Regions from separate parts of the Homo sapiens genome. Here all the other regions are linked to region 1. The links come from fine-mapping of genetic effects on gene expression. A gene starts in region 1. Each other region holds a variant in brackets. All regions are shown on one strand. Distances are from middle to middle. Region 1 holds the start of ABCC5 (ATP binding cassette subfamily C member 5). Region 2 overlaps ABCC5 (ATP binding cassette subfamily C member 5). Region 3 overlaps ABCC5 (ATP binding cassette subfamily C member 5). Region 4 overlaps ABCC5 (ATP binding cassette subfamily C member 5). Region 5 has its middle 31 kb from the start of MIR4448.

Evidence for each region.
Region 2: its variant is fine-mapped to the expression of ABCC5 in whole blood (TOPMed, PIP above 0.99).
Region 3: its variant is fine-mapped to the expression of ABCC5 in whole blood (TOPMed, PIP above 0.99).
Region 4: its variant is fine-mapped to the expression of ABCC5 in whole blood (TOPMed, PIP above 0.99).
Region 5: its variant is fine-mapped to the expression of ABCC5 in whole blood (TOPMed, PIP 0.92).

Annotation. Positions count from the first base shown.
Region 1 is chr3:184,015,700-184,020,802 of GRCh38, reverse strand. ABCC5 (ATP binding cassette subfamily C member 5) reads left to right here and starts at 2,919. Exons shown (of 30, transcript NM_005688.4): 1 at 2,919-2,973. RefSeq lists an enhancer at 2,522-2,701 and a silencer at 3,182-3,351.
Region 2 is chr3:183,950,013-183,955,115 of GRCh38, reverse strand. ABCC5 (ATP binding cassette subfamily C member 5) reads left to right here. Exons shown (of 30, transcript NM_005688.4): 18 at 1,846-2,030; 19 at 3,113-3,259; 20 at 3,546-3,675; 21 at 4,991-5,103. Among named protein-coding and RNA genes, the nearest start is that of ABCC5-AS1, 54 kb to the left of the region's middle. The variant G/T (reference allele first, on the strand shown) is at 2,232.
Region 3 is chr3:183,974,708-183,979,810 of GRCh38, reverse strand. ABCC5 (ATP binding cassette subfamily C member 5) reads left to right here. Exons shown (of 30, transcript NM_005688.4): 9 at 1,160-1,308; 10 at 2,187-2,294. Among named protein-coding and RNA genes, the nearest start is that of ABCC5-AS1, 29 kb to the left of the region's middle. The variant C/T (reference allele first, on the strand shown) is at 1,995.
Region 4 is chr3:183,926,623-183,931,725 of GRCh38, reverse strand. It overlaps ABCC5 (ATP binding cassette subfamily C member 5), which reads left to right. Exons shown (of 30, transcript NM_005688.4): 27 at 2,901-2,979; 28 at 4,283-4,396. Among named protein-coding and RNA genes, the nearest start is that of MIR4448, 42 kb to the right of the region's middle. The variant A/G (reference allele first, on the strand shown) is at 2,433.
Region 5 is chr3:183,914,811-183,919,913 of GRCh38, reverse strand. No RefSeq gene overlaps it. Among named protein-coding and RNA genes, the nearest start is that of MIR4448, 31 kb to the right of the region's middle. The variant T/C (reference allele first, on the strand shown) is at 3,110.

The DNA of each region.
Region 1 (5,103 bases):
AGGGCTGGAACCGTGTTTGTTTTAGCTCCACTGCATCTCTACCAAATATTTAATGAATATGTTTAGTACATTACACAACATAAATATTATTTAGAAATACCCACAATTCTGGCCGGGCGCGGTAGCTCACTCCTGTAATCCCAGCACTTTGGGAGGCTGAGGTGGGCCGATCACTTGAGCTCAGGAGTTCGAGACCAGCCTGGACAATATGGTGAAACCCCGTCTTTACTAAAAATACAAAAATTAGCCAGGTGTGGTGGGACATGCCTGTGATCCCAGCTGCTCTGGAGGCTAAGGCAGGAGAATCAGAATCACTTGAACCCTGGAGGTGGAGGTTACAGTGAGCCGAGATCTAAAAAAAAGAAAAGAAAGAAAAGAAAAGACACACAATTCTACACTGCAACATAGATTCTCTAGCCCCCTTGCCTGAGGGTTGGGAAGTATCGCCCCTCTAAACAGTTCACAACACAAACACATTTTGAGGGGGTAATTTTGTAAGTATAATTCTTTCACTCAGACTATACTTGGACAGACCAAGACAGTACTACAGTGTATTGAAGCCTGCCACCAAGGCTGTCTGGTGTTCATCTATTCTTTTTTAATAAAAAACAAACTATAATCAACATATATGAAGTATTTCAGCGGGATTTAGAAGCTTTTTAAAAAATATGATGATATCAGATCTGCAGTTTTGGGTGTTACAGTGTTTGAGGCATTGTTGGAAGGTACTAGAATCTTTGGTGAGGTGGTATCTCATTACTATTTTAATTTACATTTCCAGGCCAGGCGTGTTGGCTCACGCCTGTAATCCCAGCACTTTGGGGGGCCTAGGTGGATGGATCACAAGGTCAGGAGCTCAAGACCAGCCTGGCCAATATGGTGAAACCCCATCTCTACGAAAAATACAAAAATCAGCTGGGTGCGGTGGCCGGTGTCTGTAGTCCCAGCTACTCCAGAGGCTGAGGCAGGAGAATTACTTGAACTCTGGAGGTGGAGGTTGCAGTGAGCTGAGGTGGCACCACTGCACTCCAACCTGAGGGACAGAGAAAGACTCTGTCTCAAAAAAAAAAAAAAAAAAATCAATTTCCCTGATTATGAATGAGATTGGGTGTCTTTTCATATTTGAGTGGCTGCTCAAGTTTCCTATTCTGTGAGCTGTCTGTTCATGTCATTTACCTATTTTCCTATTGGGTTATCTGCCGTTTCTTACTGAACTTAGAAATTATTTTGAATATTTATTATTCAAAAACTTTGTCAGTTATAACTTGTGGTTTATCTTTTCAATTTATGCCATCTTTTAATATGGCAAAAATTATCAATCTTTCTTCCTTTATTCTTTGTTTCTTGTTTAAAAAGTTCTTTCCTACTCCCAAGTTCATAAAGATATTTCCTATCTTCTTCTAAAAGTTTTTAAGTTTTCCCTTTCACATTTAAGCGTTTGATCTACCTGAAATGGGTTTTTTCTGTGTGGTATGAAGCGGTAATCCCTGATTGTTTTTTCATATGTATAACCAATTGTTCCAGTACTATTTACTGACTCTTCTTGCTTTCCCCACGGATTCGTAAGGTTTTCTGTCACAGATCAAGTTACATGGATGCACCAGTCTGTTTGGGGGCTCTTTATTCTATTGCATTGGTCTATCAATCCGTGCGCAAGAATATGCTGCTTTACGATACAGTAGTGTCTTCACACTAGCTAACTAGCTAGCTGTTATAAAGATGGACAAGTCACTTTACCTTCTCCTTCTTCCTCTTCCTCTTCTTCTTCTTCTTTTTTAATCTTTGAATTAAAAAAAAATACGGCGGGGTGAGGTGGCTCGCGCCTGTAATCCCAGCACTTTGGGAAGCCGAGGCGGGCGGATTACCTGAGGTCGGGAGTTCGAGACCAGCCTGGCCAATATGGCGAAACCCTGTCTCTACTTAAAAAATACGAAAATTAGCCGGGCGTGGTGGCGGACGCCTGTAATCCCAGCTACTCGGGAGGCTGAGGCAAGGAGAACTGCTTGAACCCGGAAGGCGGACGCTGCAGTGAGCCGAGATCGCGCCATTGCACTCCAGCCTGGGCAACAGAGCCAGACTCCTTAAAAAAAAAAAAAAACTCATAATACCTACTCATAGGGCTGTAATGGAGATTAAAGGAAACAAGAATGGTATGTAAAGCATCGGATACAAGGTAGGGAAGAACTCAACAGTGGCTTTTATTTAATGATGCTGAAGGTACCGATGAAACAGAGAAATAAAGGGATCAATCTTTCTGGGAGCTTCAGTTTCATTTATAAAAAGAAGAAGATGAGTTAGCATAACATTTCTAAGGCTCTTGCCACTTCTAAGACTGTGATCCTGGCATTTTATTATCTAGAGACCAGGCAGCGAGACATTGATGGGCAGTTGGTGTTAAAGTGAGAAAGGCGGTATCTGCGCAGACTGCAGGGTCGAACCATGAGCAAGCAATCGTATCTGCCACAACAGATAAGAACTGGGGCTGGCCGGCCTGACGACTCTCAACGGGTTAGACGCGGGCTACGATGACCTTCACGATCTTTTCTGGCAGCTACACGGCCACGCAGGGTGGGACTGCTCTGCCTACGAACAGCACTGTGTGCGAACACAGGGCCACGGTTAAGCCTCCCGGCTGCCTCCCCCAGGGAACACGACCCCTGAGAAGATTCCAGACAGTCTCGCAGAGGCACGGGGAAGGATGGAACAGAGCCGGGAGCTCGGTGGGAAGAGGGGCAGCCCGCACCGCCCCCGGGATGTCACCGGCGCTTCTGGGAAATGTAGTCCTTCGCCGCGTCCGCAGCCCTGGGCACTCGGAAGGAGGACTACAGTTCCCTTCAGCCTTGGGAATGCTTTGTGCAGCGCGCTTGCGCGGTGTGGCGGCCGATGCCGCTATAAAGGCTTGTTTTGCTGCAGGGCTCATGCTCGGGAGCGTGGTTGAGCGGCTGGCGCGGTTGTCCTGGAGCAGGGGCGCAGGTAGGTGATGGCTGCTGCCGCACCCCTGCCCTCCAGCTCGGTTGTCACGGGGATCACCCCTTTGCATTTCCTCGGGGCGTGGCGGGATGTGGCCAGGGCTGCGAGCAGTTCGGGGGACACTGGAGACTTGGGGAACGGCGTATGGCCTCCCCCTGGTCTCCTGCCGCCGCCTCCTAGGCCTGTGAGCCCGGGGTCTGGTGACGGGGTCGTGTGCTGGAAGACAGGCAGGTAGGATCGGGATGAGCGGGCAGGGACGCGGGCTACGTCCCTGGCCGCGGCCGCCAGGGGGCGCTGCGCCCGCGGGCCGTGGGTGTGGGTCGCGCTCGCCTGGGCAGGCCGGAGCGGGCTGTGGGAACGCCCTAGGGCCCGGGCATCCCAGGCGAAGCGGGTCTGAGAGAAACGCCCACCTGGGAGGCTGTGCAGCGGGTGGCTCGGGGCACCCTGCTCAACCCGCAGCGGAGCCGCCAGCGACCTTCGAAGTAAGTCATCCCCTTCGTTTTTGCAAGCGGGTAAATGGAGGTACGTGACATAAGCACGCGCAGCAAAGCCGTGGCTGTGCCGGGAACGCAGCCCAGATCTCTCCACGGTCATCCAGTGCTCTTTTCGCTTCTGCCACACAGAGCCGCGGGTGGCTTTGTGTTTATCACACAGGGGCCATTTGGTTTCTGCACAGACGGAGAGGCTGGAGGCAGGTGGGCACAGGAACGACGGGGAAAGTTTCAGGAGGTCTTGGAGGAGGAGATGGCTAGGTTTTACTGTGGTCCGCAGCGTGTATGAAAGGTGAGGCTGCTTGGAGACGCAACAAGTGGATTACAGTGGGTGTGGTAAATACGTATCCCTTTAGCGTGGTGTCTTCCTCGTGCAGCTTGAGGGCCTGGAGGTGATGGAAACCTACTCATGAGTGTTGGGATGACTGCAGCTTGCACACACCAGTCTGGTAATCCCGTGCAACTCTCCTCCTGCCATGCAGTTGAATCAGTATCATTGTGCAGGGAGAGTGTCTACACTTTTATCAGTGGAAAGAGAATCTTGGTAAAAAAGGGCAGCTGACTAAGTGGCCTCAACCCTATTGGGCACTTCTTTGGGGTTCTCCCACGTTGATTATTCTGCTTCTACCCTTGTACATGTCTGGACAACAGGTTTGTTTTTTACAAACAAAAATCCCTTCTCTTTCTTCCTCTCTTGATAGCTGAGGCAAGTGAGCATTTAAAAAAGATATTCCAACAACTTTAAAGGAGGACACGAGAAGATAGGGAAATATAAATAGTATCAGTAAAATGGCTGGCCTGGGGATCCATCCTTGCTTGCTTGCTTGCTTCAGACTGGGGCTTTGTTTCTTTCCAAACCTGTCAGGATTCCCAGCTCTTCGCCGGCCTCCACGTGGGGTGCCCTCTTTTATGTTCCAGATACACAGACGATGGTGTCCTTATGTTCAAGGCCACAGACAGTAACTTTGTGCCTACTTTGGGCCTGCCTGCTCTCCTGATTGTGCCTCTTTTTCCAGGAAAGTAGAGATGAGTGTGTTAGAGATAATGGAACACTGTTCCCCACACCCTTCATACATAGAATAACTTAGTCCCTTAGGATAGTTTAGCAGTGTCTACCACAGCAGTCACTGTAGGCACAAAACAGTCATTATTTGTGTCATAACAGGGAAGTCGTTTTGTCCCTGCCTCTCTCTGCTCCTGTGCTCCACTGATTCTACTTCATCCTTTGAAATAAAAGTGGTTGAAAGAATCTTTGGTTATCATGGGTGCTTAGATAATTAAGATTATGTTCGTGTTCTTCTTGATGTGGCATTTCATATTGTGGATGAGTTCCAGTGACCTCCTCTGTTTCAAACTGCTCACCGCCCCAACCCCCACCTTTTAAAAAGGTAGTACTAATCTTTTCCTCTTCCAGATAATCAGCTAAGCTAGGGAACCCTTGAAGGGGAAGGTTAGAATTTCGTGATTCCCGTAAGAAGGTTACTCTGATCTACAGCTACAGCTCAACACTGGGGACACTGGCAGATGCCAGGTCTGTTTATAGTTTAGCCTTAATGAGGTCTCAATGACGTGATTGCTGCACTCTGGCTTGGTGAGCCGCTGTTCTTTATGGTGTAGTTTGTCATTGGACAAGGTGACTTTT
Region 2 (5,103 bases), 66 kb after region 1:
CTGTTCTCTCTGACGTCTGCTACTGGGAGGCTTCATCTACATGACAAGAACCTTGGCGTCCACACCCTGTCCCCCACCACTCCCCCACCACTCAAGCTAATTTCAACTCTTCAGGCAGAGCTTAACCCTTTCAACCAATTGCCAATCAGAAAATCTTTGAATTCACCTTTGACCTTTAAGCTGCACCTCCCTGCCCCATGTTGCCCCACCTTTCCGGATCAAACCAGTGATTACCCCACTTATATTGATTGATGTCTCATGTCTCCCTAAAACATAAAACCAAGCTGTAATCCAACTGCCTTGGGCCTGTTCTCAGGACCTCCTGAGGCTGCGTCACTGGTCATGATTCTTAACCGTGGCAAAATTAACTCCTAAATTGATTGAGACCCGTCTCAAGGTACTTTCTGGTTTACATTCTGTATTCTCATATTAGTGTTAAGAATCTGAGTGCGCCAGGGAGATCCTCAGGAATATATTTGAACCTTTTCTCTCCTCCAGCAGCCAGCCAGTTACTATGTCCTACTGAATTTACCTCCCGAAACTCCATCCCACCATCACAACCCCAGTTCAGGCCTTTATCATCTCTTACCTACAGTGTTACAGCTGCCTCGTTTTGAACCTGTCTTCCACACGGTCAGCTGCGAGATCTAGTTAAAAACATGAGACCAGCTAGGTGCGGTGGCTCATGCCTGTAATCCCAGCACTTTGGGAGGCTGAGGCAGGCAGATCACCTGAGGTCAGGAGTTCGAGACCAGCCTGGCCAACATGGTGAAACCTCGTCTCTACTAAAAATACAAAAATTAGCCAGGCGTGGTGGCGGGCGCCTATAATCCCAGCTACTTGGGAGGCTAAGGCAGGAGAATTGCTTGAACCCGGGAAGGCGGAGGTTGCAGTGAGCTGAGATCACGCCACTGCACTCCAGCCTGGGCGACAGAGTGAGACTCTATCTCAAAAAAAAACACACACACAAAACATGAGACCAACCAACTTTCCTGCATGGAGTCTTTCAGTAACCTTCCATTTTCAAATATTTTCCCTGATAGGGCACATACAGAAAAGGCTATTTGTGTGGAACACAGGAGGCATGAAAGAGGCTGCTCGCTCCCAGAGGCAGCTGGTGTGGCAATATCAGCCATCCCAGGTCCTTCCTAGCCCAACAGAAGTCAGACACACCTGTCACCCTTTCTGTTGAGAAGTTCTTTGTGGGGCCAAAATTCAAAGCCTTTCTTCTGTGACCACAGCCTGCTTAGTCGGCCTCATCTCCTGCCATTCTTTAAGTGCACATCTGTTCCAGCTGTGCCGAATCACTGTGGTGGTGTGTTTTGCTACCCCGTGCCTGTGCTTGTGTTGTTTTCTCTGCCTGCTCTCTCCTTTCCCCACCCGGTCATCTGTGGCTTACCTTTTGAGAAGCAATACAGAAAGTCTTACCTGAAACATGCCTGCCAACCACCCCACACCTAAGCCAAATAGGTCAAGTATGCCTCCCAGGGGTTCCCATGCTGCCCTGCGTATAGCTCTATCATCACATTGAGCACATTTCACTGTAATTATGTGATTATTGATCTGCCTGTCCTACCAGTCTGTGGCAGGCTCCTCAGCCAGGTCCCTAGGGGTGGGGACCTGGTCTTCATCCTCTTTGCTGCTCCTGGGCTTCATCCTGGGTCTGGTTTGTGGTAGGTGCTCAGTAAATGTTAAATAGATGAATGAATGCTTCTGACAAAGAGGAAATCTAATCTAGACCCCTGTGAAGCTGCCGGTTGTCCGATTCTGTTGCTCTGCAGGTGACTTAGTTTTATGGAAATAGTTCTTCCCTTCTGAGTCCATGTTTCTTTTTTTCTTACCTAGGGCAGCTTGTGCAGCTGGAAGAGAAAGGGCAGGGTTCAGTGCCCTGGTCAGTATATGGTGTCTACATCCAGGCTGCTGGGGGCCCCTTGGCATTCCTGGTTATTATGGCCCTTTTCATGCTGAATGTAGGCAGCACCGCCTTCAGCACCTGGTGGTTGAGTTACTGGATCAAGCAAGGAAGCGGGGTAAGGTTACTCATAAATGGGAAAGTTCTGTGTCTAAGAATGTGGCCGTTTCTCCCTATTCCCTGGCTATTCTTAGGGAAACTGTTCTAGTTTTCACTTAAAAGAAGCTGTAAAGAGAGATTTTTCCAGGATGAAAAGATGAGTCCCTAATGTAGCCTCACCAGAAGGAAAAAAACGCTGACCAACCCACAGGGCAGTAGG[G/T]CGTGCAGTAGGACACCTGCAGGCTATCTGTTCTCATCCGTTGTGTATTAGTCCATTTTTGCACTGCTACAGAGAAATACCCAAGACGGGGTACTTGACAAAGGAAAGAGGGTTAATTGACTCACAGTTCCACATAACTGGGGAGGCCCCAGGAAACTTACAATCATGGTGGAAGGCAAAGGAGAAGGAGGCACCTTCTTCACAAGGTGGCAGAAGAGAGACAAGACAGCGTGTGCGGGAGGACATGTCAAACACTTTTAAACTGTCAGATCTCATGAGAACTCACTGTCACGACAAGAATAGCATGGGGGAATCCACCCCACAATCCGGTCACCTCCCACCGGGTCCCTTCCTCAACACCTGGGAATTACAATTCAAGATGAGCTTTGGGTGGGGACACAAAGCCAAACCATATGACATTAGAATAGAGAGAAAGAGGGCTAGGTGTGGTGGATCATGCCTGTAATCCCAGCACTTTGAGAGGCCAAGGCAGGTGGATCACTTGGGGCTAGGAGTTCAAGACCAGCATGGCCAACATGGCAAAACCCTGTCTGTACTAAAAATACAAAAATTAGCTGGGCATGGTGGTGCACACCTGTAATCCCACGTACTTGGGAGGCTGAGGCATGAGAATTTCTTGAACTCAGGAGGCAGAGGGTGCAGTGAGCCATGATTGCGCCACTGCACTCCAGCCTGGGTGACAGAGTGAGACACTGTCTCAAAAAAAAAAAAAAAAAAAAGAGGTGGACAAAGCCATGACCAGGTCCCAGGGTGGGTCATTATCCTGTACCCTGCCCTGCCCTTGAGCTGAGAATGGCGCTGAGCAGGGGCTCTTGGCAGTCGTTAGGAGTCTGGCCTCATAGAACTTTGGCTTCAAACAGAACACCACTGTGACTCGAGGGAACGAGACCTCGGTGAGTGACAGCATGAAGGACAATCCTCATATGCAGTACTATGCCAGCATCTACGCCCTCTCCATGGCAGTCATGCTGATCCTGAAAGCCATTCGAGGAGTTGTCTTTGTCAAGGTATGCATTGGTGGGTGGTCTCTGCCCTCCTCCCTGGTGACCTGTGGTCAGGCTTTGGTGTGGCGTCTCTCAGTTCATGCTGAGTAGGGGAGCTCCCTTAACCAGGATGGCCCTGGCTGAGATGACTCATATTCCGTTAGCCTCCACCTTTTCTCACTTGCCACCTGTCCCTCCTGACCCCTCACACCTCCCCGCTTTGGGAGTGGATGTGCTGCGGAGCGGTTCTCTGGACCAGTAGGAACAGAGCCGTCCCTGGGCCCTGACCACTCTGTGCTCTGCTCCTCAGGGCACGCTGCGAGCTTCCTCCCGGCTGCATGACGAGCTTTTCCGAAGGATCCTTCGAAGCCCTATGAAGTTTTTTGACACGACCCCCACAGGGAGGATTCTCAACAGGTTTTCCAAAGACATGGATGAAGGTATTTCTCACTGAGCCTTTTTTTAATACTCTGGAGCTCACTGTGCTTCCAGCCTTCTAGATGATTCTCCAAATGTGCAGATCTGTCTGTCTGTAGATCCTGAGAGCACAGTGACTGCTGGTGTTTTCACCAGGAACATTGCAACTGCATTTTCTGTCTTGTTTGACCTGAAAATAAATTCAATGAATTGAGTTAGCAGAAAGGCTTTGAACAGAGGCATCTGAGATTCTGAAACACACACAGATTTTAAAGCAATGCATTGGTTTCTGGATGCCTACAACCTGGCAGGTTTTCTGGCTGTTGTATGGGCTGTGCCTGCACCAGAACTGAAATACTGTACCCCCACAGTTCAGAGTAACAGTAAAGCCCCTGACATTGACAGGGGGCTTCCTGTGTAGCAAGCAGCATGCTCAGTGTTTTATGCATGTTACCTTAATCCCCGCAGCAGGCCTGTCAGGCGGGTGTTGTTTCACTCCTTGAATAATGAGAAAGCTGCTATCTGGAAAGGTCAAGGAACTGGCCCAAGATCTACAGCTATTGAGTGACAAAGCTGCAAATTGAACCCAGATCTTTTTGACCCCAAAGCTAATGTTTTTAATTGCTGCACTGTAGCTGCCTTCATGGAAGGGGTTTGTTTCAGGCATTGATAGGCCATTGTAAACCCATGGCCAGAGGTAACAAGAAATCAGAACTATCCCTGATACTCGAACTGATACATAACATGTTCCCATTTCTGCTAAACACACACGCATGTGCTCACACATGAATGGAAAAAAGAAAAAAAGTAAATAATAGCAACATGTCTGGGATTTGCATGAAAATACTTTAACCAGAAGAAAAAAGGCGGTGGGGTGGGGAGACAGCCAAAAAGAGATGAAAGTTGATAACTGTTGAAGGGTCTGTGCTCTTCCTTTAATTTTTATGTATGTTTAAAAATTTTGCAAGACAAAAAATGTCTTAAATGTTAACAGCAGTTCATTGGTATTGGTAAGAATATAGTTTTTGTTTTCTTCTTCACATATTTATTTTCCAAACATTTTAAAATAAGCATAAGTTACTTTGTAAAGGGGGAAAATGTTTAAAGCAGTGGGGCAGGAAGGGAACCAAGAAAAGGGAGTGGAGTAAGAGGATTTTCTTGAGACGAAAAAAAAAAATCAGAGCATCCAGGTTTCTAAATTTTTCTTTGATCAGACTGTTTAAAGACAACATCACAAACTTCAGATAGAGAGTTTGTGGAACCCCTTTTTGTTTTTTTCAATTTTCAGTTCCATTTTTCCAAACCATCTGACACTTGCTCCTTTATTTGTTTCCACAGTTGACGTGCGGCTGCCGTTCCAGGCCGAGATGTTCATCCAGAACGTTATCCTGGTGTTCTTCTGTGTGGGAATGATCGCAGGAGTCTTCCCGTGGTTCCTTGTGGCAGTGGGG
Region 3 (5,103 bases), 41 kb after region 1:
GCCCAGGAGTTCAAGACCAGCCTGGACAACGTACTGAGACCTCCTCTCTACAAAAAATAAAACATAACTGGGCATGGTAGTGCACATCTGTGGTCCCAGCTACTTGGGAGGCTAAGATGGGAGGATCACTTGAGCCATGGAGGTTGAGGCTGCGGTGAGCCGTGATTGTGCCACTGCACTCCAGCCTGAGCAACAGAGCGAGACCTCGTCTGAAAAAAAAGTATCTTATTGTTCTGCTTCCTGCTCCACGGTCTTCAGTACACTATGGTTGCTTTGCTAATATGGGGGTTGATTTTGCAAATATTTAAGAAAAATCATTCTGCCTATAGAAATTGTATTTCACCTATCTTCTTCCGGTTGTCATTACTGCATTTTTATATGGAAGCTTCTATCCCACTGCCAACATACAGCAGGCACTCTGGGAAATGTTAGTTCCCTCCCCACTGCCCCTTTTTTTTTTTTTTTTGAGATAAGGCCTGGCTTTGTCACCCAGTCTGGAATACAGCGGTGCAATCTCGGTGCACTGCAACTTCCACCTCCCAGGTTCAGGCAATTCTCCGGCCTCAGCCTCCCAAGTAGCTGGGATCATAGGCGTGTACTACCACACCCGGCTAATTTTTGTATTTTTAGCAGGGACGGGGTTTTGCCGTGTTGGCCAGGCTGGTCTCGAACACCTGACCTCAGGTGATTCCCCCTGCTTTGGGCCTCCCAAAGTACTGGGATTATAGGCATGAGCCACCGCACCTGGCCTCTTAGTCCCTCCCTTTTTAATTCTCCAGTGCCATTGTGTTGTCTTTCCTATTAATTCCTTAGGCAAAAAGTCAACAACAACCAGGTAAGCAAACACAACTGCCAATTATAGATACAATTAATGTGTTCATTCCTTCTCAACCTAAGAAATTTACAAGAAGAATCAGAAAAAGGTATCATAGAAGATGATGATTGAGTTCATACATAGTGACTGCTTTCTGTTAGATTCATTCCTGTCACTTGATCCATTTCAAACCTCAGCCTTTTATACCAGCTTTAGTGGTAGAGTTGATAGTCATAGGTGTTGAAGGGTGGCTGGAGACCTACAGAGTCTTGTTTGGAGGTGGAGGAACAACATCCCTAGGCTTCTTTTAACTTGCTTTGAAATTGGCTTGCTTTTTATTCATAGAAATCCGCGAGGAGGAGCGTCGGATATTGGAAAAAGCTGGGTACTTCCAGAGCATCACTGTGGGTGTGGCTCCCATTGTGGTGGTGATTGCCAGCGTGGTGACCTTCTCTGTTCATATGACCCTGGGCTTCGATCTGACAGCAGCACAGGTCAGGGAACCCTCAGGGATGGGGAACATTTTAGAAATACCACATTTGCTGGAGGCTGAGGCAGGAAAATCACTTGAACCCAGGTGGTGGAGGTTACAGTGAGCCAAGATCATGCCATTGCACTCCAGCCTGGGGGACAGAGCAAGACTCCATCTCAAAACAAAACAAACAAACAAACAAAAAAAAAATACCACATATGGAGATGATGCTGTGGTCCTCTCCTTACTGGACCTGGAGGTTCCCCCAAGAATTAGTAGGTATTTTTTCATTCATGGGATTAAGCTGAGAAGCAGAAGAGTGGGGAGCCAGCCCTTATGCACAAATAGTGTATGAGTTGTTTTTAGTCAACATAAGTTTGAGTTTAATTCTGAAATTACAGATCATCCTGTGGTTCATATTTACTGACAATTTTAATTGAAGGTCTCAAAAACTCTACTTAAAAAAAAATGTGGCCAGGCATGGTGGCTCACGCCTGTAATCCCAGCACTTTGGGAGGCCGAGGCGGGCGGATCACTTGAGGTCAGAAGTTTGAGACCAGCCTGGCCAACATGGTGAAACCCTGTCTCTACTAAAAATACAAAAATTAGCTGGGCATAGTGGTGCATGCCTGTAATCCCAGCTACTCGGGAGGCTGAGGCAGGAGAATTGCTTGAACCTGGGAGGTGGAAGTTGCAGTGAGCCAAGAT[C/T]GTGTCACTGCACTCCAGCCTGGGCGACAGAGCGAGACTCCGTCTCAAAAAAAAAAAAATGTAATTGACTTGTAATAACAGCTGACCGTGAAGTTGCAGCCTTCCTAGCGCCTGAGAGGAAATTCATGGTGTCAGGTTACTTCAGTTGCATAGCATCATTAGGCACAGTTTCTTCTCTTCTCCTATTTTCAGGCTTTCACAGTGGTGACAGTCTTCAATTCCATGACTTTTGCTTTGAAAGTAACACCGTTTTCAGTAAAGTCCCTCTCAGAAGCCTCAGTGGCTGTTGACAGATTTAAGGTAAGTGGCTCCTTCCCCTGCCCCCGTGTCAGGAGCCCTCCCCACACAACTAACTGCTGGCTCTGTTCAAGGGGCCACCCAGGCTGGCCTCACTGGGCTTAAGCTTGGCTTTGGCCTTTTGGCAAGTTGGTAAGAAAAAGGGGGCAGTGGAGGAGACTGAATTGAGGGATGAGACTTGTCACCTTTTTTAATTAATGTGAATTTTTACCTTTTGTGAACGGCCATGATCTGGGCTCCCAGGATTGCAGAGTTCCCCTTTAGAGCTAGCCCCTTCCACCTGGGCCTGACATGGATGTGTCGCAACTCACTGGGCCTTGAAGTGGCTTAAACCTAGAAGACCAGCACTGTGGGGCATCTTCCCCTTGATCTTTGCTACTGTCACTTTGATTGATTGACATGCTGAATCCTTTTTGATACTTTCTTTTTCCTGCCCTGTGGTGCTACTCACGATGCAGGGAAAGCAGTTACATGGAAATAGTCATAAAACTAGGTCATGTTGAGAAGTGCAGTTAAGTAAGTCTCAGCTTCTTTTCTTGCAGGTGGTTAGTTGATCATACCTTGGCTGTGTTCTTTGTTCCTTCAGAATACTACACATACATGATACAAAAGGGAGTATATTTGGGAGGGTGGAGAGAAATAGATATTTGATAGTGGTTAATACTTAACAAAAAAAGGGATGCCATGTGGGCTGGAATTCCTTGATGTTGCCACTGCATAGATTAGCTCCTATGTCCCTGCTTGTCTTTATTGGCCAGTGAGAGGAATAAGAAAGCAATTTTGGTGATGTGAAGGCTTGAAGCTCACATGTTTGAGGGATGAATATAATCATCTTGGAGGTTCAGGAGAAAACAAATTGGATTTTCTTCTTAAGAAACATGGAAACTCAGTTCCCGAGATTTGTTTGTATTCTACTTGTTTACAGTTGACCGGGTGACTTTTATTTGGTCAAGAAAGCTAGTCCTGGCTGGGTGTGGTGGCTCACACCTGTAATCCCAGCTCTTTGGGAGGCTGAGGCAGGTGGCTCACTTGAGCCCAGGAGTTCAAGACCAGCCTGGGCAACACAGCAAGACCCCGTCTCTACAAAAAAATAAAAAAATAGCCAGGTGCAGTGGTGTGCGCCCACAGTCCTAGCTACCCGGGGGGCTGAGGTGGGAAGATTGCTTGAGCCCAGGAGGTCGAGCCTGCAGTGAGTTATGATCATGGCACTGCACTCCAGCCTGGGCAACAGAATGAGACTCTTATCTGTGTTTTTGTTTTTTTTTGTTGTTGTTTGTTTGTTTCTTACAAAAAGAGAAGAAAGAAAAAGGAAGGGAGGGAGGGAAGAGAGAGAAGGAAGGAAGGAGAGAAGAGAGAAAGGAAGAAAGCTAGTCTTCGAATGTGCCCCTCCCCCACCCCAACGTGGCCACTTCTTAGAAAACCAAGAGCTGAGTCATATGAAAAAAAATGGCCTAATGGGACTCAGAGCTTTATTTTGCTGAATCCGCAATAACCAGTCGTGGATGAAAGCAAATGTTTGACCATAAGTTCTCCCTGCTGTTCATTTCTATATTCTTGTTAGTGAATGGATTTGGTAGCACTTTGGATAAAGTAAGGGCATGTAGTGTAGGTTGGTCCTCCCCTTGTTTTTCGAGGGCTCTCATCTCCTGCTTATTAGTGAGGACTTGGATTAGCAGGTGGCTTTCACATCATAGGTCCCTCCTCTCTCCAGGAAGCCTCAGAATTAATAGTAGAAGCAGCACCACCCACAGCTCTATTTGATGCCCCATGAGACTTTAGACCCCTTCTATCTTACTTCTCTTGGTGGTCTCAGTCTCTTTTTTTCCTTGTTATTCTTTTTTTAATTAGATGCTTGGCACAAGATAACAAGTATTTATGGCCAGCCTTGGTGGCTCACGCCTGTAATCCCAACACTTTGGGAGGCTGAGGTGGTTGGATCACTTGAGGTCAGGAGTTCAAGACCAGCCTGGCCAACATGGTAAAACCCTGTCTCTACTAAAAATCCAAAAAATTAGCCAGGTGTGGTGGTGTGTGCCTGTAGTCCCAGCTACTCGGGAGGCTGAGGCAGGAGAATCGCTTGAACCTGGGAGGTAGGGGTTGCCATGAGTCGAGATCGCGCCACTGCACTCCAGCCTGGGCAACACAGCGAGACTCTGTCTCAGAAAAAAAAAGATAACGAGTGTTTATTACTTAATTCCTCCCGAACTCTAAGCCGGTTCTTTCTTCTTATCTTCAGATGTCTATTAATTAGAATTACATTGACTTTATGAGGGTTGGGGGGCTGTTTTTTAGGTGTAAGGCAACTGTTTATTATGTTTCTGAGTACGTTAAAGGAAGTTTGCCTCAATCTTGGGGGACCATCTAAGGCAGCCTTTTGAAAACAACAGAACTGTTCCTGGGATTGTATCTCCCCAAAAGCATCTGCCCTCTCATCATTTTTAGAAGATGGAATATAGAATAACAAGGATGAGACTTGCTTCTTTGATTCATTTTACAGACCTTGAAACTCACTGACGATGTTGCAGAGCCCTGCTTTTCACCCTGTGTCTTGTTTTACATCATTTTCTTTCTTTCTTTTTTAAATTGGAGTTGGAGATCTGACAGATTTGCAAGTATAGTCTTTTCTCTATTTCACCTACCCTGCAAGTGCATATGGCAGGAGAACTTGTTGCTTCCTGTTGGGTAGTATGCATAAAGAATAGGAAAAGAGATATAAAATTTATTTATGTAACCTGTAATTTATTGATTTGATAACCTGTAGAAAGGCAGTGTGAAGCTGCACTGATTGTCACCAGTGGAATAGGGTGGCTTG
Region 4 (5,103 bases), 89 kb after region 1:
AATATTCATTTTCTATCTGGAACCCATTGTTTAGTGGTCTGAGGCTCCTTCAGCTGGTGTGATGGACCTGGGTGAATTGAATGTTAAGCCTGGGCTGGGCACAGTGGCTCACGCCTGTAATCCCAACACTTTGGGAAGCCAAGGCGGATGGATCACCTGAGACCTGGAGTTCAAGACCAGCCTGGCCAACATGGCAAAACCCTATCTCTACCAAAAAATACAAAAGTTAGCCAGGTGTGGTGGCGCACACCTGTAGTCCCAGCTACTTGGGAGGCTGAGGCATGAGAATTGCTTGAACCTGGCGGGGCAGGGCAGGGGTTGCAGTGAGCTGAGATCATGCCACTGCACTCCAGCCTGGGTGACAGAGCAAGATTCTGTCTCAAAAAAAAAAAAAAAAAAAAGTTAAGCCTGTTGTCGTATTTGCCCATAGAAAATCTGATAGGGCCGGCTACTCAGTGGGCAGGAGACCGCGCTTTTGTGTACAGCAGTTCTCGCTTCTCCATGGTTTCACTTTCTGCAGTTTCAGTTACCCATGATCAACCAGGGTCCAAAAATATTACATACTATATTTTGCAAGAGACAGACCACAGTCAAATAATGTTCATTACAGCATATTGTTATAATTGCTTGATTTCATTATTGTTAATCTCTTACTGTGCCTAATTTATAAATTAAACTTTATCATAGGTATGTATATATAGGGGAAAAAAACATAGCATTTATACGGTTCAGTACTATTTGTGGTTTGAGGCATCCACCGGGGCTCCCTGGAGCATATCCTTGTGGATGAAAGGGGGCTCCATGCCTGCTCTTTGATCCAGAGGCATCTGATGGACTTACTTGCTGTATGTGTTTCCTGGGGCTGTCATAAACAGTTTAAGCCACAAACTGGATGGCTTCAAACAACAGAAATGTACTATCTCACAGTTCCGGGGGCTGGAAGTCTAAAATCAAAGTGTCATTTGGGCCATGCTGCCACTGAACCCTATAGGGAAGGACGCTTCCTTGCCTCTTCCAGCTTCTGGTAGTTGTGGCCATCTTTGGCATTCCTTGGCTTTGGATGCATCCCTCTGGCCTCTGCCTCCATTGTCACATGATGCCCTCCCAGTGTTTCTCTGCCTTCACGTGGCCATCTCTCATAAGGACCAGTCATATGGGATTAAGGGCCCACCCTTCTCTATTACTCTGGTATGACCTCATCTTAACTAATTACATCTGCAAATTACCCTATTTCCAAATAAGGTCACATTCTTAGGTACTTAGGTGTCTTTTGGGGAGACACAGGTCAACCCATTAAACTGTACCATATTAAACAACACTTCCTGGGCCAAGGGTAGTGAGAAGCGAGCATGTTCCAAGCGGGAAAAACGCCGTGCAAAGGGCAAGAGGCGCTGGAGAGCAAGGCGGGTCAGAATCTCCCAGGAGATCGAGAGATGCCCAGATAGCAGGAATGAGGCGGTGCCGGCCTGCTGTCCTCTCACTAGAGTTCTGTGATAATGACGTGATTGTATTTGCATGCCTGTAATTAGTAACCCCAGATATGGAGACAGGTGTGTGGCATAGAGTAAAAGTCCATGTTTCTCCCAGAGAGTTTCCTGTTTCCCACATGCCAGGCATAATTTTATGAGCAAAGCAAATATACTTTTCAGATTACTAGACCTCCAAATGTTATGTGTAGATCAAGACAAGCCGTCCAAAATTACTGTAACATCCCAGTTTTCCACCAAATACCTGTTCCACCACCAATTCTCCACCCTCATCCTCAGTGGCAAAGATAATTTTCTCCTGTCCTAAACATTTCTAGTCCTGGCCGGGCACAGTGGCTCATGCCTGTAATCCCAGCATTTTGGGAGGCCCAGGTAGGCTCATCACTTGAGCTTGAGCACTGGAATTTGAGACCAGCCTGGGCAACATGGCAAAACCCCATCTCTACAAAAAACACAAAAATTACGTGGCATGCGCCTGTAAAAAAAAAAATTTCTAGTCTCGTTCTTTTGGTATCAACTCTGATTTCCTTGAGGTAGATACTGTTGGCACAGTAAGCAAAAATGGTCCCCAAACTGGTCTTCTGTGCCAGGAAAATTCCTTTTTCTTGACTTGTCCTTTATTCTTTCTCTCCTTCTTCCTCTTCCCTTCTACTGGATCAGTTTCTTTCCCTGGTCAGGCCAGCTGTCCTGGAGCCCCATACTCAATTACAGGGTTGTGAACCAGGTAAACCAAGAGAAAGAGGGTGCATTTCTAAGTTTGTACGTATGGAGAGATTTATTTTTTATTTTATTTTATTTTATTTATTGAGATGGAGTCTCACTCTGTCGCCCAGGCTAGAGTGCAGTGGTGTGATCTCAGCTCACTGCAACCACTGCCTCCTGGGTTCAAGCAATTCTCCTGCCTCAGCTTTCTGAGTAGCTGGGATTACAGGTGCCCACCACCAC[A/G]CCTGGCTAATTTTTGTATTTTTAGTAGAGACAGGGATTCACCATGTTGGCCAGGCTGGTCCTGAACTCCTGACCTCAAGTAATCCACCCGCCTCGGCCTCCCAAAGTGCTGGGATTACAAACATGAGCCATTGCACCCAGCCGAAAGATGTATTTTAACAAATACACGCACAGGAAAAAATCTAGAAGGATATTTGCCGATATTTGCATTTATAAATTGTTCTATAACTAGTATTATTTACATAGTAAAAATAGTAAAAGAATAAATCAAGTTTTATGGAGCTGAGGAGGTGGCCCAGTGTGCTGTCAGAGCTCCCATCTGTCTGGTTGTGGAATGAGCCGTCTGTGACCATCAGGGTTTGGAGTCTTCTCTCCCTATGCATGTGTGTTAAACATCTTCCACAGACAGCCTTTGCCAATGGGTCGCTTAGGGTGGGACCACTGAGAAATTCCTGTGTTTCTCCCTAGATCAAATTTGGACCCCTTCAACCAGTACACTGAAGACCAGATTTGGGATGCCCTGGAGAGGACACACATGAAAGAATGTGTAAGTGAAGAGCTTAGGGGAAGCCGTGCTGAGATGGTGAGGGTGGAAGCACAGCAGTGCCCTTGCCACACCCCGTCTGCTCTGGCCGTGCCTCCAGGATGCCTGTGGACAAAGGCTTCGTGGCAGGGCTCTCCAAGTCTTTCAGATACCTGGGAAAAGCTGATCCCTCTCAACCCCACCGCCCACACTGCCTACGGTCATATTGGCCTTGCACTATCCATTGATTGAAGATAGTAATGACAACTACTTAGAATTAAGTGATGCTTTTAATTTATTAGTCATAACAGTGTAACATACTTTGAAGCGTCCACATATACGCAAAAGATATATAACGTGGCCGGGCGCAGTGGCTCTCGCCTGTAATCCCAGCACTTTGGGAGGCCGAGGCAGGTGGATCACCTGAGGTCAGGAGTTCGAGACCAGCCTGACCAATATGATGAAACCCTGTCCCTACTAAAAATACAAAAATTAGCCGGGTGTGGTGGCATGCACCTGTAATCCCAGCTACTCAGGAGGCTGAGACAGGAGAATCGCTTGAGCCCAGGAGACAGAGGTTGCAGTGAGCGAGAGCGCACCACTGCACTCCAGCCTGGGCAACAAGAGCAAAACTCTGTCTCAAAAAAAAAAAAAAAAAGATACATAACATATTGAGTCTGCAGAAAGCACACAGTGTGCATATGGACCATGGACCACAGACATTTTGGGACAACTCAGTAGGCCCTCACAGGCCCTCACGAGCAGCTGCAGTCTACAGGTTGATACCACTGGCCTAGGGTGAGGCTTCTGTTATGCCTGGGTTGAGTCAGGATCCAGGATCCCCTGCCCTAATTCAACTATTAGTAGATGAGTTCTGTTTTTTCCTCTGCTCTATCGGGATTCTTCTCATTTGAAGAATAAGTTCTGCAGCTTACAAAAAATGTTTCACAGGCACGGGCCTACGGCTTTGGACTTCAGAAGGAGAGTACTTTTCCTTACTATACTATTTCCTATTGCAAGACCATATTTTCAGAACCAAAACTTAAGGCCCACTATGTGACTGGATTTTGGGGACATGAAAGCGTTGGGATTTCTGGGATGTTTTAATGGTATAAAGCTAACAGAATAGTCTATTGGAATCAGGGACTGCCTTGGAAGTGGGTCCTAGCACGCATGATCAGTACACCTGCACCTTCATTCCAGATGAGACAGGTTCTTGGCTAATAGTTCTTTCATCGCTTTCAGAATCATTTCTTTCTGTCCTTGGATTTTCAGGAAATTCAGCTTAGTTTCTTACCCCTCTGATCTCTAGTTTCTTTCTCCCTAGATTGCTCAGCTACCTCTGAAACTTGAATCTGAAGTGATGGAGAATGGGGATAACTTCTCAGTGGGGGAACGGCAGCTCTTGTGCATAGCTAGAGCCCTGCTCCGCCACTGTAAGGTAAGGCAGTTTGGGGTTGGCAGCAGCAGAGAATGGGAATGTTTTAGTGCAGCCTTGCCCTGACACACTGGGGTCCAAAGGTATTCCTGGCTCTGATCCCTGTTGGCACTTTCTAAGAGCATGACCAGAGATAACTCTAACCCTGACACAATTTGGGTATATTGGTTCTGGGGAGGGAGAACAGGGTTGCTTTGTTTTTACCTTCATCCAAGACCAACTTTTGTTTCTGGCCATTGAGTAGTTGTACGACTGCAAACCATAGACATAGAAGATTTTTTTTTTTTTTGAGACGGAGTCTTGCTCTGTCTCCAGGCTGGAGTGTAGTGGCCAAATCTCGGCTCACTGCAACCTCCACCTCCCAGGTTCAAGTGATTCTCCTGCCTCAGCCTCCCGAGTAGCTGGGATTACAGGCGTGCGCCACCATGCCCAGCTAATTTTTGCATTTTTAGTAGAGATGGGGTTTCACCATGTTGGCCAGGATAGTCTCGATCTCTTGACCTCGTGATCTGCCCGCTTTGGCCTCCCAAAGTGCTGGGATTACAGGCGTGAGCCACCGTGTCTGGCCGACATAGATTTTAAAATTGCAAGAGACTTTAAGGTCATCCAATCCAGCCCCTTCATTTTATAAACAGGAAAAGAATGTCCTTTTGTCCAGTATGTTACCAGCCATATTGGATTCAAGGGAAAAAAAGAATTAATTGTACATG
Region 5 (5,103 bases), 100 kb after region 1:
TCTCTGGGAAGGGAGTGAGATATCCCTGAATGGCTTTGGGACCTGCATATCCAGCAATGGAGTTGCATCTGGGAAGGACTGGTAGCAAAGCTGGTTGGTTGCAAGGGCCATGGGGCCCTGAACACCTGGAATCATCTCTGTGGGCCTTAGTCCCGCTGCCTGTGTTCCTGGACATGGTCCCCAAATAAAGCTCCTTGGCTGCCCATAAGAGGGTGGGGAGTGGAAAGGTGAGTGGTTGTGGTGAGGTGGGTGGTCGTGGTGAGATGTATTTAAAATGAATAGTTTATCGAGGATTCTTAGCAATTCAAACAATATAATTACCCTTTCAGCCAATTCATTCAGATTCACCCATTGAAAATTAGTAACCCCGTCTCTACTAAAAATACAAAAATTAGCCTGGTGTGGTGGCAGGCACCTGTAGTCCCAGCTACTCAGGAGGCTGAGGCAGGAGAATCACTTGAACTCGGAGGTGGAGGTTGCGGTGAGCTGAGATCGTGCCATTGCACACCAGCCTGGGCGACAGAGTGAGACTCCGTCTCAAAAAAAAAAAAAAAAAAAAAGCAAAGGGTACTCATTCTAAAGTTTCTGACTATATTGTGTTGAATGCAGCCAAGAAAGCTTTTAAACTGGTATTAGTTTGCTGGCCATCAGTAGAAATTATACTAATTTTTCTAAAGTACCTGTGCTGTCGTGAGAACCCAGGAGCTTGACTCTAAAGTTAAAACTTTAGTTCCTAGAGTGTCACATTTCAAGCGCTCAGTAGCTGTATGCGACCTGTACAACATAGTAATGTACAGTGCAGATATAGGACGTGTCGATCATTGCAGGAAGTTCTGTTGGGCAGCTCCAATCTAAACGGTAACCACTTTTACTGAGGCACTAGATTTATCTTCCAAGAAGGTAACAAGGTCAGCAGAACGAGACCCTTCAAACTGCTGGGATTACAGGCATGAGTCACTGTGCCCAGCCTAAATTGGATTTTTAAAAGCAATTTCCATTTTGCCATTTTGTGCTTTCCCAGCTCATAATTCTCTGTTGCCAAGTAGAGTAGGCTAACAGGTGTAAGAAACAAGCCCAGACTTTCAGCAGTTTACCACAGTAACCAAACTCCTGTAGCAAAGCAGTGTGGTCTGTGGAGGGGTGGAATGAAGGTTCTGCCCGTGCGTTCAGGAACCCAGTCTCCCTCCCTCCTGGTCACCCTGCAAACCTCTAGATTTGAGCTTCTCTGCTGGATCCACTGTGCTGATCAGAGAAGAGAGCACAGAATGTTGAGCAGAAAGTGTTATGAAACAGGCCTGAAAACATTAGACATCGCTTCTGTGCTCGTTTTCTTGGCTAGAACTCAGGGGCACCTGTAAGCTAAGCACTGTACTAGGTACTTCTAGCATGGCCTTACGTGATTTTCTCAACCACTTTACAAGGTAGCTAAAATTAAGCACATTTTGCTGATGAGGAAAGGCTCGTGAAGATTTAACTTGTCTCAAGCCAATATCCAGTATGAAGTGAATCACACAGAATTCAAACCCAAACAGCCTGCTCCCAGAGTTCAAGCTGTTCCTCATCTCATGACCTGAGCTTCAATTTCATCAGCAAATTCAATTTCATCAAATGCATGTGCTAGATCAGATTGCCTCTAAGATTTCTTCCAGCTCTAACTCCATGACTAGTGTGAGTCCATAACTAGGACCTGAAAAACCTGGATCCTGCTCACCTCATTTGGGACATGGCTCTAGAACTCTGCCTCTTCCTCTTTGCTTCCACTAGGGAGGTGGTGTGTACTGGGAGCAGATTTCCTCTTTTCCTGGAATCTTTTCTGTGTCCTGTTTCTTTCTGCCTGTGGCCTGAATTCAGCATTCTTCCTTGGCTCAGGCAAACTCCCTTCTACCTGCTCAGGTGGACTCAGCTTAGGAGGACTAAGCTGGCTGCTGTCCAAGTGAGAACCATCAGAGCTAGTACTTGGTCTCCCGCAGACCTGGCACAGCCCTGTTCTCAAAGGGGAGCTCCATACCCAGCTAGGACAGGCCAGCACCAGGCAGTTAGGACCGTGGGCACACACCTGTTGGGGCAGAGATACTGACGTTGCCTGGAATGGTTGGTTCACGGGGCTAGGGGCTGGGGGAGACTTCTCTGACTCATTTTTTGTGTCCTTGACAAAGAATCTGGTGGGCTGCAGTCCTGGGGCCATTCTGACCACTGGTGAGAAAAAAGGTGCCGTGAGGCCCACTCTGGGAGTCTCCATCTGATGTCATTCCCATGGGCCTCTGAGAGTGGCCTGCCCTCCGGGAACTTTAGCTCCCCACTTCTTCCAGACTTACTGATCCAACTGCCTCTTCCCTCAGCCTCCCAATACCTGGACTCCAGCCCCCTCGGGCTCTTTTCCCAAAAACTATTTATTGAACAGTCACTAGGTCCCATACCTTCTGCTGGGCACAGGAGACCAGAAACAAGACACAGGGAGATTATAGTCCAAAGGAGAAGAGAAACTTTAAGTAACTTGCTCACTTTTTCTCACCCTTTCTCCTCCTCTGAGTTTCTCGGTCATGACCTAGGAGTCCAGGGATGGCACCTGGCCAGTCCTGCCCTGGGTTATTCAGAGACACCCTTTCTCTCTTGTCCTTGGTATTCCCTATCTCCGATCTCCCTTCCTTTCCTAGGATGTGGTAAGATCTAAAGGTCCATTGTAATAAGGATGTGGGCCTGGGGCTGCTAGTTTCTGGGCCCTGGGCAACTCCTCCAGCCACAGGAGTCTTCAGGCACCAGACTCTCCGGACTAGCCCACCACGCTGCCTCTCAGTGCCAAAGGCGTGAAGTCGTCAACAGAAAGGTTTTGCTAGAGCAGCCTCTGTGTATATTTTCTCTGGGATCCTGACAGCTGATCAAAATACAGGGGCTGGATCCCAGCCACCTACCATTTGATATAATCGCTGGCATTCATACTTAGATAATAAGCAAAACAATGTTTGGCTAAGAGAAGTGACACCTTGGGAACATACATGCCATCCCGCCATGCCTACGTATGATCAGGTTCTACCCTTCAATCCCCAGCCGAGCCGTGTTGTACTTGGAGAAAGACTACCACTCCTTCAGTTTCAATACCCTTGGCGAGTCC[T/C]GGAGTCACTCTCGGAAATGGGCACATGAAGAAACCTGCTACTTCATCTTCCATAAAATCTCTGTTGGCAGGCCAGGCGTGGTGGCTCACACCTGTAACCCAGCACTTTGGGAAGCCAAGGTGGGCAGATCATGAGGTCAGGAGTTCGAGACCAGCCTGGCCAACATGGTGAAACCCTGTCTCTACTGAAAATACAAAATACAAAAATTAGCCAGGCGTGGGGGCAGGCACCTGTAATCCCAGCTACTTGGGAGGCTGAGGCAGGAGAACCACTTGAAACCGGAAAATAGAGGTTGCAGTGAGTTGATTGTGCCACTGCACTCCAGCCTGGGCAACAAGAGTGAAACTCTGTCTCAAAAAAAAAAAAAAAAAAAAAAAAAAAAATCTCTGTTGGCAGTTGTGTCCACACAAGAAATCCCTTTCAGAATCTGATCTCGGGAAAATTCTCTGCTTCTCAGTGAGGATTCTGGAACACATTGTTTCCTCCTTCTTATTTTAGCCGACAGGAAGCTCAGGGCCCTGTATGTTTATCTCAGCTTGTTTCCCTCATCCTTCATAATATTTTGATCTTTCCTTTTGACCGTCTTGAATATTATTTATTTATTCATTTATTGAAATGGAGTCTCGCTCTGTCTCCCAGGCTGGAGTGCAGTGGCACGATTTTAGCTCACTGCAACCTCCACCTCCCGAGTTCAAGCAATTCTGCCTCAGCCTCCCATGTAGCTGGGATTACAGGCCCGTGCCACCACGCCTGGCTAATTTCTTTATTTTCAGTAGAGATGGGATTTTGCCATGTCGGCCAGGCTGGTCTCGAACTCCTGACCTCAGGTGATCCACCTGCCTCGGCCTCCCAAAGTGCTGGGATTACAGGCATGAGTCACTGTGCCCAGCCTTGAATATTTTTAATATTTTAAATAATAGCTGCCATGAATCATTCTCGGATAAGATGAATATCCTGGGAACAATAAAGACATCATTCTGGTTGGATGGCTAATTCTACTGCCCTTGATGGGGTGCGATTGTGGGTGTGTGTGTTGGGGGCAGGGAGGGGGAGGATGTTGGCTGCCCTTTGCCACACTCTTCGGACACGAAGCCTCTCCCTGTGCCCTGAGATCATCCTGGCTGGAGCACAGCATGGCAGTGGCGAGTCCCACTGCCCCGCTCCCCTTACTCAAAGCTGGGCTTGAAGGAAAGCAGCTCCCCGTGGGAACTCCACTGGAACACTCTGCAAAATTCTAGATGCTGAGTTCATTGCAAGCTGTCAGGCAGCACGTCATCCTTTCTTCATCTACGAAACCTGGGGATGTGCAGAACCACTGGTCATAGAGTCACACCAAGAGTGAAAGAAGGAACTATTGATAATAAAATATGCAAAGCAGGGCTATGTCCTCTAGCGCTGGCCCGTGCCCTGGCTTGCCTGGATGTGGTCCCTGAGTCTGCCCCTCCTTCAGTTAGAGGATCCTGGGTCTCCCAGCCCTCCCCAGAAATAGCTCCTGTCCTTTGGGGCCTTCACATAATGTCTAGAGGCAGGCAAGCCCCCTGTATTTGTTCCCATTCACTCCCATGGGCACTGGGACACATTGGACAAGTTAAACACAACCGCAAGGAATGGAATTCTCCTTCTGTGTTCAGGTGCATGGAGGTAACTGGAGGGGGGTCTCTTCTGCCTAGTTCTCATTCCTTCCACCTCTAGTGGTCTCTGTAGCTCCTTATTTTTATCTCCTCCCTTTCCTAGTCAGGGAGAAGTAGGGGGTGGGCCTACCTTGCTGGAGTGGGGGTGTGGGGCGGAGCAACTTCCAGGCACTGAGTGTGGAGTGGGTACTGGGTTTGGGTCGCTCTAGAAGGGGAAAGGGGTGTTCTTTTGTTCTGAGATCTATCCACAGGAGGGGGTGTTGCGGGATCTACAGTGAGGGTCAGTCTGCTATGGGAAACGGCCCCTGCCTGGGCACAGGCCCATGGCTAAAGCTGTTGATCCAGCATTCCTTAACCACTGT